4 separate regions of the Homo sapiens genome follow, and regions 2, 3 and 4 are each linked to region 1. The links come from fine-mapping of genetic effects on gene expression. A gene starts in region 1. Each other region holds a variant in brackets. All regions are shown on one strand. Distances are between the middles of the regions.

Region 1 (2,686 bases):
CCAAGAAGTGTGATTCCTAGGAGAAAGGAGAAGGTAGTTTGGGTGGAAGAGATTGGGTGGCTTTGTTCTGTTCAAAGGATGGGCGAGACTATGTTTGTGGGAGAAAGATTTAGGTTAGAGGAAGAAATTAATAATGGGGAAAGAAAGAATAGCTGAATAAAATCTGGGAATGGCTGGGATCCAGGGCACAGGTGCAAGATTTAACCTTGAGGAGAAAGGGCACTTCTTGCTGTGGGTGAGGGAGTGAAGAGGGTAAGATGAATGAAGGTACAGGATAGGCATAATAATGAAGAGCCTGGATTTAAGGGTGAAGCCACTGGCTCACATTATAGAGGAAAGGCTAGGAAAGCCGAATTTTCTGGGGCCAGGTCCAGATTTAATATATTTAAGTATAACAGTCTTAATTCATTCCTTTCACCTTATTCAGTGCCCTGGGTGTGCCAAATACTACTGGGCACTGGGGTCTACAAAGGTACGACTTTTCATGTAATGTTGGAATTTGTTATGTTGGTAACTCGAGATTTGCATATATTTAACAGTCTTAATTCATTCCTTTCACATTATTCAGTGCCCTGGGTGTGCCAAATACTACTGGGCACTGGGGTCTATAAAGGTACGACTTTTCATTAATTTTGGAATTTGTTATGTTGGTAACTCGAGATTTGCTTTTCATTCTTCTGGAAGGCTGTATGTAGAAATAAATACAGTCATCAGACGAGTTCTTTGTCAGACCAGATGTCCTGGGTTGGGGTTTGGAAAACATGGGCATCTTAACAATGGTGCCCTGTTTGAGGTGGAGAGGGAGGAGAGGCCCAAATCGGGGAAAGGAATTAAATGGAGGTTTAGACGCGGGTAACCGGAGTGGGTGGGCCTTCAACCTGGAAGATGGGAATCCCCAGCGCACTTCGGGCAGCGCTGTAACCAAGGGTAACCGCACCTCGGTTTACACCGGTGTGAAGACCAGCCTCTTCCCCAAACCAGGTGTATCTACGGCGGCCTAGCAGGACCACACACAAGCCAAGCACGTCACGTCATTCGAGCTACCTTACCGCGAAAGTCCACTGCCTCCTACTACTTCTGGTCACTACTACCTTTGCTCACAGTTTATTAAGGAGGAGCGGAGAAGAAGAGGGGCGGAGAAGGGGCGGGGAGAATCACCTTTCCTTTTTTACAATTGGTCGTAGTAGACTCCGAGTCCTGCCGCCCGTCCTGCAGCCGACAGGCTGCCAGGACTGTCACTCGAGGAGCTGCCGCTACCGCCCCCCGCCGTGGCCCCGCCCCTTGCCGTGGCTGGGATCTCGCGGGAAGAGCTGCGGGCACGGCGGTGGCTCGGTCTCCCGGCTGCGCGCGGAGCGGGAGGGCTCTCCTCACACAAGCGCTTCCTTGCCGAGAGGCTGGAGCTGCGGCACCGCAGGCCTGAGCCACCCCTTCTCTGCTGTCTCCTTCTCTTCCTCAGGGCTCCCGTGTCTGCTCGCCCTCCGACGCTGCTCAGGTTAGAAAGCCCGGAGCGCGTCTCCGCTGAGGAGCGGTCGGGGAGCGGGGACACGGAGCAGCCGGAGCAGGCGGGCTCCTGACGGGGGCGGCTCTGGGGGCTGCGCGGCGCTGCCTGGTGGGCGCGAGGCTTGGCGGGGTTTGGGAGTCCGGGGGGCGAGGAGGCGGTGCAGTGGGATCCGGGCGCGGGCGCCCAAGGGCGGTGTAGCGGGTGCCGGAGCTCCCGAGGTGAGGGGGCAATGTATTAGGGATCCTGGGGGCTCTTCCGGCTTGGGGTAGGGGTGGGTGGCGGCACACGGGGTCCTAGGTCTTTGACGTCGAGGGAGATTTATCAGGGTCTTGAGCTTCTTGGAGGTGGTGTAGCGGGGTTCCGGGACAAGGGGTCTTTTTACCCGGGTCCCGAGCTCTTTGGGGCAGAGAATGCAGTTTAGCAAGGTTTACACCGGTGTAAACCTTGTCTCTGGAGGCAGATCATCGGGGTCTTGGGGGTTCTTTGAGCGGGCGTGGGCGTCCGTTTCGCATTGCTGGGATGAAGAAGCAGTGTGTCCGGGTTCTGGGGAGAGGGGTCTGTTCATCGGTGTCTCCGGGTGAGAGAGCGATGTATCCGTTCCGCTGGGGCCGGGGCCGCCTTGGGGGGTTGTTGGGGGCTGAGGGTGTGTAGCGGCGACCAGCGTCTGGCCGGGGTTTCTGCTTTGCCCGGAGCGGGGCGGTAACTTGGCATGGTCTCCAGTCTTTTGGGGGCGACGGGGCGAGTTAGCTGGCCCCCGGGCAGTCTCTCGGGGTGGGCGCGGCTCCGCAGGCGCTGGGTCCGCTGAGGGCGGGAGAGGGCTTTGGTGCTACCGCGCAGGCTGGGCAGCATCCTGAAACGTTTTTGTTCAGGTCTCCTTCTCTCTGGATGAGATTTACTCAATGCTTAGTTGGAGGATTGATCGGTGTTGTTGCCTAGTTGAAGAAGCAGTGCGTTTGTTCTGCAGTTTTCTTTTCTCTGCCCCGGGATCCCTGTGGGGGCGCGCTGGTCTCGCTGGAGCTCCGGGAGCTAGAGTGGCAGCACCTTAGGTGGGCGTTTGGTCTGCAGGTTCTTTAGGAGGCCGGTGTCCGCAGGTTGAGCGTGGATACAGCTCCTGAGCAACTGGAATCTGTTGAGGGTGGGGAAGACTGATTTTGGCTTGCTTTCCTAGGTGGTGGTCTGCTTTGC
Region 2 (2,686 bases), 130 kb after region 1:
TAGATGGAAGCTTTTACACTTGGATTTTTACAACAGAACCAAAATAAACTGCGTAGGGTAGGTGTGAGACAAGCTGGACCCAAAGGGACTCTCTAATACAAGTGTCAGAAACTGCCCCCAAAATAACTGCACAAAAATGTTTAAGGAGGAAGAAACCCCAGCGGGACAGGTGGCAATGAATGCAAGGTCAGCCTTTAATTCCTGAAGTGACAAGCAAGTCACTTGCCCTTTTAGGATCTTACTGTTCCTAGAATAGCTAATAGATTTCCGTGGTCCCTTCTGGTTTAATGTATGAAATGGACTAGAAGTACTCTATATTTCCCAAAAGAACAGTGGACAAAATGCCTGCTCCCCACATTATCTGAATATTCACCATTTTTGCCTCAAAGGCACGATCCTGTAAGAGCCTCCAGATTGGCTGGTTGAAGTGAATAGGAGTCCTGTTTTGAACATTAGCTATAGGATATATGTGGTGGTGAATTCAGAGCATATATGTTCAAGGAAGAATTATATCTATATTTAATTTTTGAAAATCTAAATGTACTCTCTGATTACTAAGAGAAGTGGTACTAAGAACCGTGTGAAACCTACTGGGTAATTCACGCCCAGGCTTGCCATGGCTGGGGGCCAGTGGGCCTCAGAGCGGGAGACAGCAACTGAGAACACAAACTTTGGGCCAGTCCTGATTTGAGATCCAGCTGTGTGATCTTGTAGACGTCACAGCCTCAACTTTCCAATCTATAAAATGGGATGGTGATAGACATGGAGTTTGGTGAGTACCACATGAGATACTGATCCTGCAAAGCTCTTGGCACCTAGCTTGTAGCAAGAGCTTGGTAAACATTGGCTGTTATTATCACTTTAAATCCTCTTATCAAAGTGAAGCCTTCCCTTCCCATGGAATGTTTTGTGTAAATCTGACTTCCACACCCTGAGCAGACTGGGTATGTCATAGGGTTCTTTGGCCTGCCCTGAGCTGCCCCACAGCCAGCAAGTCCAGCCCAGGCCCCAGGAGAGCAGCCAGGGAGAACTTCCTACGTCTTTTGAGCTGGGTGGGAACAGAGAACACAGCAAGGCTTCCTCAAGCCTTTCCTGAGAACACAACTTCAAAACGTCCACACCCAGATGTTAAGAAAGCCCCAGGCCCAGTGCCAGCCCCCTCCTCCCTGGAGTCAGCA[C/T]CCTGTCTCAGCCCTAGAAGAGTCCATAGCCCTCCAGCCTGCTGCAGAGGAGGCTCAGGAGAGCGGCTGGTCACCTCTCTCCTCCCCAATCTCAGGGGGAAGACCCAGAAACAGAAGGTAGAAGGCCTGTGCCCTTGGCTGAGACCACCTGGGTTCAGCTCTCATACAAGCTGTGGCCCCTTGGCCCCCTTCTTACTCTTTCAAAGTATCCCCATCTGACCCTACAGATAATCCTTTTTTTTTTTTTTTTTTTGAGATGGGGTCTCACTCTGTCACCCAGGCTGGAGTGCAATGGCATGATTTCGGCTCACTGTGACCTCCGCCTCCCCGGTACGAGTGATTCTCCTACCTCAGCCTCCGAGTAGCTGGGATTACAGGCGCATACCACCACACCCAGCTAATTTTGGTATTTTTGGTAGAGACAGGGTTTCACCATGTTGGCCAGGCTAGTTTCAAACTCCTGACCTCAGGCGATCCACCCACCTTGGCCTCCCAAAGTGCTGGGATTATAGGCATGAGCCACCGCACCAGCCCAGATATTCTTAATATGGAGTAAAATACCGCCCAGAGAAAGTGAGGCTTGGAGCCTGAGTTGCCTGTAAGCTCTGCACGACTGTCTGCCCCTTCCTGCATTGCACAAAGGAGAGTGCACTGAGCTAGGAAGGCTGGTGGTCCTGTGGGTGGCTGTGTGGGGAAGGGGTCAGCTACGGGTGGTGAGCTCAGGGCCTTTCCTTGCCCATAATAAAATAGCTGTCACCGGCCGGGCATGGTGGCTCACGCCTGTAATCCCGGCACTTTGGGAGGCCAAGGCGGGAGGATCACTTGAGGTTAGGAGTTTGAGACCAGCCTGGCCAACATGGTGAAACCCTGTCTCTACTGAAAATACAAAAAATAAATCAGCCAGGCCTCTGGGTGAGCGCCTTTTGTCTCAGCTACTTGGGAGGCTGAGGCACGACAATCGCTTGAACCCAGGAGGCAGAGGTTGCAGTGAGCCAGGAGATCATGCCGCTGCATTCCAGCCTGGGTGACAGAGCGAGACTCTGACTCAAAAATAAATAAATAAATAAAATAAAATAGCTGTCACCCTGGCTGCAGTGTAGGCTTCTTTCAAATGCAAACACTCCAGAAAGACAGTCCATGTGAGGATCCATGCTCAGGTACACCTGTGCTGGAATAGGTGCATTCAAGAGGCTTCTCTGGATGTACAAGAAATTATTATCATTATTATTTCTTCATATAAAATATTTATTGCACAAACAATATTATAACACCACCACAAATAAAAAAAAATTACAATCCCCCAAACCTAGTAAATGGGCATTGGTTTTCTTTTTACTTTTGCAATTCCCCTCCATCTCTCATTCATACATACACAATTTTCTCATAGCTGGGCTCCAGCGCAATGCAATTTGCACCGAACACCATATCATCAGCATTTCTCCACGTTGCCACAGTCTTCACTATTAGCTTTTAACATGAGCATGCTTTGCTTACCAGCGCTCTGGAGC
Region 3 (2,686 bases), 42 kb before region 1:
CAGCTGCTGTCTCTGTTTTCTTTTTCCTTTTCCTTTGTGCTTGGCAGTTCTGGCCCTCGGCACAGCAAGACCAGCACTAGAGACACAAGCACTGAGGTTCCCTTCTCCAAAGATCAAGTTACAGAACACATTCTCTGGCTCACCTTGAAGAACAAAGACTTGAGAAAAGCAGCCTGCCTGGGGATGAGGAGGCGGCTGCCTGCTTGATGTAATTTCAGGGTCTCTGGAAAAATCTCTTGAGCTCCAAATATTTTCCTGCTATAAACCTGAGAATGCCATCATTGGAGACTCAATCTTTTTACATTTGGAGCAGTGGTTCTCAAAGTGAGGTCTGTCTCTGCCCCATCCCATCCCCAGCAGCATCTGCATGACTTGGGAGTTTATTAGAAATGCAAATTCTTGGGCCCCCACCGCAGACCCCCTGAATCAGAATCTGGAGGAGGGAGTATCTGTGTTTAACTGGCCCTGTGGGTGATTCTGACGCCTTAGTAACCCCACAGAAGGGCACGTCACCCAGGAGGGGGGTACTCATCAGCATTATAGCTCTGATTTACTGCTCAGCTTGATGGACTGTGAGGAGGTGCAGAAAGGGACAGGGACAGGGGAGGGGAGGGAATGTCTTGTCTGGTGTAGAGCAGTCAGACAACCTGGCATCGACTCCTAGCTCCTCCTTCTCCCTCTGTGGCCCTGGGCAAATTACTTCATCTTTTCAGCTTTCCTTTGCTCCACTGCAAAATTCAGCTTGTGCAACCAACTCACAGGGCTGAAGATGAAATGAGATATAGAAAGTACTTTGCACATAATAGGCGCTTAAAGAGTGAGCAGTTGCTCTCTCCAACTCACCCCTACATCCTCTCTGATAGAGAAGAGGTCTATGCTGATTGGCATATGGTAGAAGGGAAGGTACCAGAGGTGGGGATTCATGTATCATAAAGGCATGGACCAGGAAAGAAAGGGGCTAGAAGTGGATGAGATGTCAAGACACAGAAAGGGGAGGAGAAATGAGAATAAGGAGCTCCCCTAGACTCAACTCATCTGGTTTCTTCCATTTTGCAGGGGGTGGTCCTAAGACCAGGGTCTCATAACCTGTGGCCCAGTCTCACCACCACCCTTTCCAGATGGTGGGTAGGGCTGATTCTTTGCTTACCTTCCTCCTACCTCATTCTAACCTTTTCAGGTGCATGACTTAAAGGTCTGAAGTTTCCCTGCAGGGAGATGACTGGTGGAAATATGCAAATGGTGAGCTTTATGGCAACTCAGGATCTTTAGGGTTAAGAAGAGAGCTGACAGTTGG[T/C]ACAGAGGCCACCATGGTGACCTGACCCTTGCTCAGACACAGCCAACAGGCAGGAAGCAGAGAGCGTCTTAAGAGAAGGAGAAACAGATGTGTGTGCCCCAGAACAGCATGCTTCCCTTTCTTTTAAAGCCTTCACATGATGTCTTGAGCCTTTGATGGCAGAGCAAATTAAGATCTCAGTCTCACTAGGAAGGCTCACATCATATGGCTCTGGGGCAATTCTACCCCCATTTCCCTATCTCTCCATTGCCAGGAATTTCAGAGTCAGTGTTTCATCATTTATGTAAGGGCTTAATCCCTATGAGAATTTTCATCTCCATTAAGCTGTGTTCTGGGCTTGGGTTAGTCAGTCTGGATTCAAATCCCAGCTCTACCATTTGTTAGTTGTTATATTCTGGGTTAAATATTTAAACTCTTCGAGCCTCACTTTCTGCCTTTGTAAAATAGGGACAGCGTTTTATACACACACACACGCACAGACACACATATACATATATATGCTCGTTATTTCAAGGGTTAAACATGTACAGTGCTATTTGGATTTCTTATGAATATATTTCTTTAAAGCTACAAAAAGAGTGGGAGGAGTAAAGACTGAAGGGAATGGTTGAGATCGGGGATGGCTAATAGGTCTCACCTACGAATGTGGGTGGATTCAGAGGTGCCCCAGGTACACTGCATTGTCAGTTTGTGAAGAATCCCAAGGCAGCTGACTGCAGTCTTGGCAGACAGCATGTGACAGTGTGGAAATGTCTGCTCCAATGTGGGCAGGGTCCTGAAAGCATGTGCAAGCCACATTTGCCATCTCTGCTCTAGTTGCTTCCTGCCTGAAGGCAAAAAGACAGGCTGTGACTCTTGCAATTACCTGAGTAGAATTATAGAAGCCATTACCTGGGATCTTCAAAGGCTCCCACAGAGAGAGTAACTTAGCCTCTTAATTGAACACAGCCTCCCAGTATCATTCTGGAACGTTGGAGCTGTCCCCAGTCACAAGGCACAGCCTTCTTAATCTGATAATAGTGTACTCTCCAGGAGGGAGAAGAGAACTCCCTCTGTAGTAGCACCAGACACAGTGCAGTGACACACTGTGAACCAGAAAGATCTTGAAGATGGTTTCATCAGGGTGGGGTGAGTGTTGGGAACCCAGGGGTGGGTGGGACTTAAAGGAATCGAGCACCCCAGGGGAGCCTGAGCTCTAACTCCGTGGCTATTTTGGATATCAATTGCTGCTTTTGTGTGTTTCCCAGCTGGACGTCTGTGAGGCTTGCAGGTGTTTTACATTATTAATCAGCTAGATCTTTTTTCTTCCTAATAATCTAGCCTCCTTCCATACCTGTGAAAGCCCTTTGAAAAACAGGCAGCAGTGCATACATTCAGTGTTTAATGGAAGGG
Region 4 (2,686 bases), 220 kb after region 1:
CCTGCTCCGGTGCCTGATATGATAGCATTTACCTTCATCTCCGGTCTTGGAGACTTTCCAGGTCTTCCAGGAGCCCTGGTTAAAATGTCACTAGTTTGAGCAAGTCAACCTCTCTGAGCCTCTCATTTTCCTACCTGCAAAGCAGGAGTGATGGTCCGCACCTCCCCAAGGGTTGCTGTGAGGGTTTGGGGAGAAAACATTGGTAGAGGCATCTGCCACAGAGTTGTGGGTGTTCCGTAATCATTCTGGGAACCACGACAACTGGGAGGCACTTGGTCAGGCAGCCTGTAGATGGAGCCAGCTAAGAGCAAAGCTCTGGGAAGCCTGTATGCAGAAATGGAAGTGGCCAGGGAAGCGAAGAGGGGCCTTGCTGAGAAAGGTGGGGGATGAAGGCCAATGTCACACACTGCACACCTTTGCTTAAGGAATGGAGGATGGAGACAGGGTCAAAGCACCAAATCACAGTGGATCTGAGCTGGAAGAACTCAGAGGCCATTCAAGCCACTGTCCCACTCAGACCACCACTGGTCGATGTAGACACAGCCGAGAGACGGGGTGGCGTCCTTACGTCATGCAGGGGCGCCGTGGCACAGGCTGGTCACTGGACTCCCTCCAGTCATGTTGAGAAGAGATGAGGAGTGTGCCATGAGTGGAGATGGGCCCAGGCTCCCCGCACAGGGGCAGCCAGCCTGAGTAGAAGTCAGATGACAGACCCGGGGCCAAAATGCAGGGGCAGGCTGTTTGGTTCCAGCAGCCAGCTCAGTGGAGAGGGGAGAGAGCTCAGTCTGGTGTGGACTAGGGTGATCTGTAAAGGAGTGTGGCAGCCCTGGGCCTGCGGACTGGGCAGGGGTGGCAGCACAGCCCTGCTCCAGGGGCCATTTGTCATTTTTAAAAGTATACATGCTTACAAATTATAACCCTTCAGAAGGGAATAGAGTCAGGCTCTGCCACTGGCCCCAGTTCTCCTCCCTGGAGTGGCCAGGGGGACCTGCTTCCTATGCGTCCTCCTGGAGCTTTTCTGGGGGACCCAGGAGCATCTGTGCTGTGAGCATCCACAGCATCTGCCTCTTTCCCTGCTGCCTTCCTCTTACTTCCCTCCCTTGGAGATCTCACTCTGTCAGCATCTGCAATCTGCATGTCTCCTGGACTTTGGAACATCTGCTTGGTGTTCCATTTTCTGGATGAATCATGGTTGATTTAGGCTGTTTTGAGATTTGAGCTGCTAAAAGGGTACCAGCCTGTCCATCCCTGCTTGTGGGTCTTGCACTCCATGCATGGATCCCTGTAGGGTGATTTTTTGCTATGTTACAGCTGAGCCAAGCTGGGTGAGCCGCACCCCCATCACCTCCAGCACTGCCTATGCACTTCTACACGGTGCCAGGCTCTCAGAGATGATCCTGACTGAGCAACAGAGAGTAGCAGGAAGGACTTGGGGAGGTCTGGATCAAGATGCCCTAAGGAAATGGGACCACTGAAAAATTGAAATAACTGAAGGATACATTTTGAGAAACAGCAAATAGCTTAAGCTTTACTTC[C/T]CGCTGGGACAAAATTAAAAAGTCCACAAGTGTAGCTGGAAGGATTTAGCAATGTTCCTTCAGCTCCTGCATATGAAAAGCTTTGTAGAGTCTCCTCCCTTGGAGGAGTTAGTGAGAAAGGGAGCCAGCTCTCTAGGAGTGATTTGTGGAAGCGAGGTGCTCTGCAGGCGGGACCTCATGCGTGGATTGTAGGCCAGGCAGACCTGGTGAAGAATTTTGAAGTGTCTCTGCATAGAGATCTAGGCTCTGCTAAGAGTCAGCTGTGGGACTAGCTATTCCGAAAAGTGATTGTACTCTTAGTGGAGGAACAGTGTGGAGGAGGAGGGAGAAAATAGTTCTCTTGGCCTCGGCTTGCAAGGCTCCACCTGGGGCATTGCTTCTATTTGAGGAGCCTTCCTACAAGAGGGACATAGACAAACTACATGGAGGAAGGACAAACCACGGGGATGGTGGTAACGCCACATTTAGATCCTGCGAGGAATGGCTGAAGGAACCGGGAGTATTTAATGTGAAGTTCAAGGAGGTGGGAGGGGGTTAGAAAGACTGCCTTGAAATATTTGACAGGCGGCCGGGCGCAGTGGCTTATGCCTATAATCCCAGTACTCTGGGAGGCTGAGGCAGGCAGACCACAAGGTCAGGAGATCGAGACCATCCTGGCCAACATGGTGAAACGCTGTCTCTACTAAAAATACAAAAGTTAGCCAGGCGTGGTGGAGGGTGCCTGTAGTCCCAGCTACTTGGGAGGCTGAGACAGGAGAATCACTTGAACCCAGGAGGCAGAGGTTGCAGAGAGCCGAGATCGTGCCACTGCACTCCAGCCTGGTGACAGAGCAAGACTCTGTCTCAAAAAAAAAAAAAAGCATATATATATATATATATATATATATATATATATATATATATATATGTATGTATGTATATATGTATGTATATGTGTATATATATATGTGTGTATATATATGTGTATATATATGTGACCATATATATATATATATATATGACCATATATATATATATATATATATATATATATATATATATATATGCATATGTTAAGCTTGTTTTCTATGATCCTGGTGGAGGGAACTAAGGCCAATCAAATGGAGATAGATTCCAGGAGGACAGATTTGAGCCAATGAAGGAGAACTTTC

Direction of the effects. Alleles are on the strand shown, and positions count from the first base shown. SD is a standard deviation of normalised expression in the study named. Not every link is listed here.
In carriers of allele T in region 2, the expression in esophagus muscle of the gene that starts at base 1,370 in region 1 tends to be higher than with C alone (moderate effect, 0.70 SD a copy in GTEx).
As copies of C replace T in region 3, the expression in subcutaneous fat of the gene that starts at base 1,370 in region 1 goes up (small effect, 0.33 SD a copy in FUSION).

The links. PIP is the estimated chance that this variant, and not a neighbour inherited with it, causes the effect. A credible set is the group of variants that fine-mapping cannot tell apart.
Region 2: its variant is the best candidate, but not a certain one, in a credible set for the expression of GLCE in esophagus muscle (GTEx, PIP 0.82).
Region 3: its variant is the best candidate, but not a certain one, in a credible set for the expression of GLCE in subcutaneous fat (FUSION, PIP 0.64).
Region 4: its variant is the best candidate, but not a certain one, in a credible set for the expression of GLCE in whole blood (INTERVAL, PIP 0.84).

The regions. Positions count from the first base shown.
Region 1 is chr15:69,159,266-69,161,951 of GRCh38, forward strand. GLCE (glucuronic acid epimerase) reads left to right here and starts at 1,370. Exons shown (of 5, transcript NM_015554.3): 1 at 1,370-1,492. It also overlaps the pseudogene LOC100421574. RefSeq lists an enhancer at 1,032-1,532 and silencers at 1,230-1,439, 1,640-1,749.
Region 2 is chr15:69,289,917-69,292,602 of GRCh38, forward strand. The region is part of intron 1 of PAQR5-DT (PAQR5 divergent transcript); the gene reads right to left. Among named protein-coding and RNA genes, the nearest start is that of PAQR5-DT, 7.5 kb to the right of the region's middle. The variant C/T (reference allele first, on the strand shown) is at 1,179.
Region 3 is chr15:69,117,682-69,120,367 of GRCh38, forward strand. No RefSeq gene overlaps it. Among named protein-coding and RNA genes, the nearest start is that of EWSAT1, 38 kb to the left of the region's middle. RefSeq lists enhancers at 1-410, 1,980-2,686. The variant T/C (reference allele first, on the strand shown) is at 1,295.
Region 4 is chr15:69,380,264-69,382,949 of GRCh38, forward strand. The region is part of intron 4 of PAQR5 (progestin and adipoQ receptor family member 5); the gene reads left to right. Among named protein-coding and RNA genes, the nearest start is that of KIF23, 33 kb to the right of the region's middle. RefSeq lists a silencer at 1,226-1,407. The variant C/T (reference allele first, on the strand shown) is at 1,536.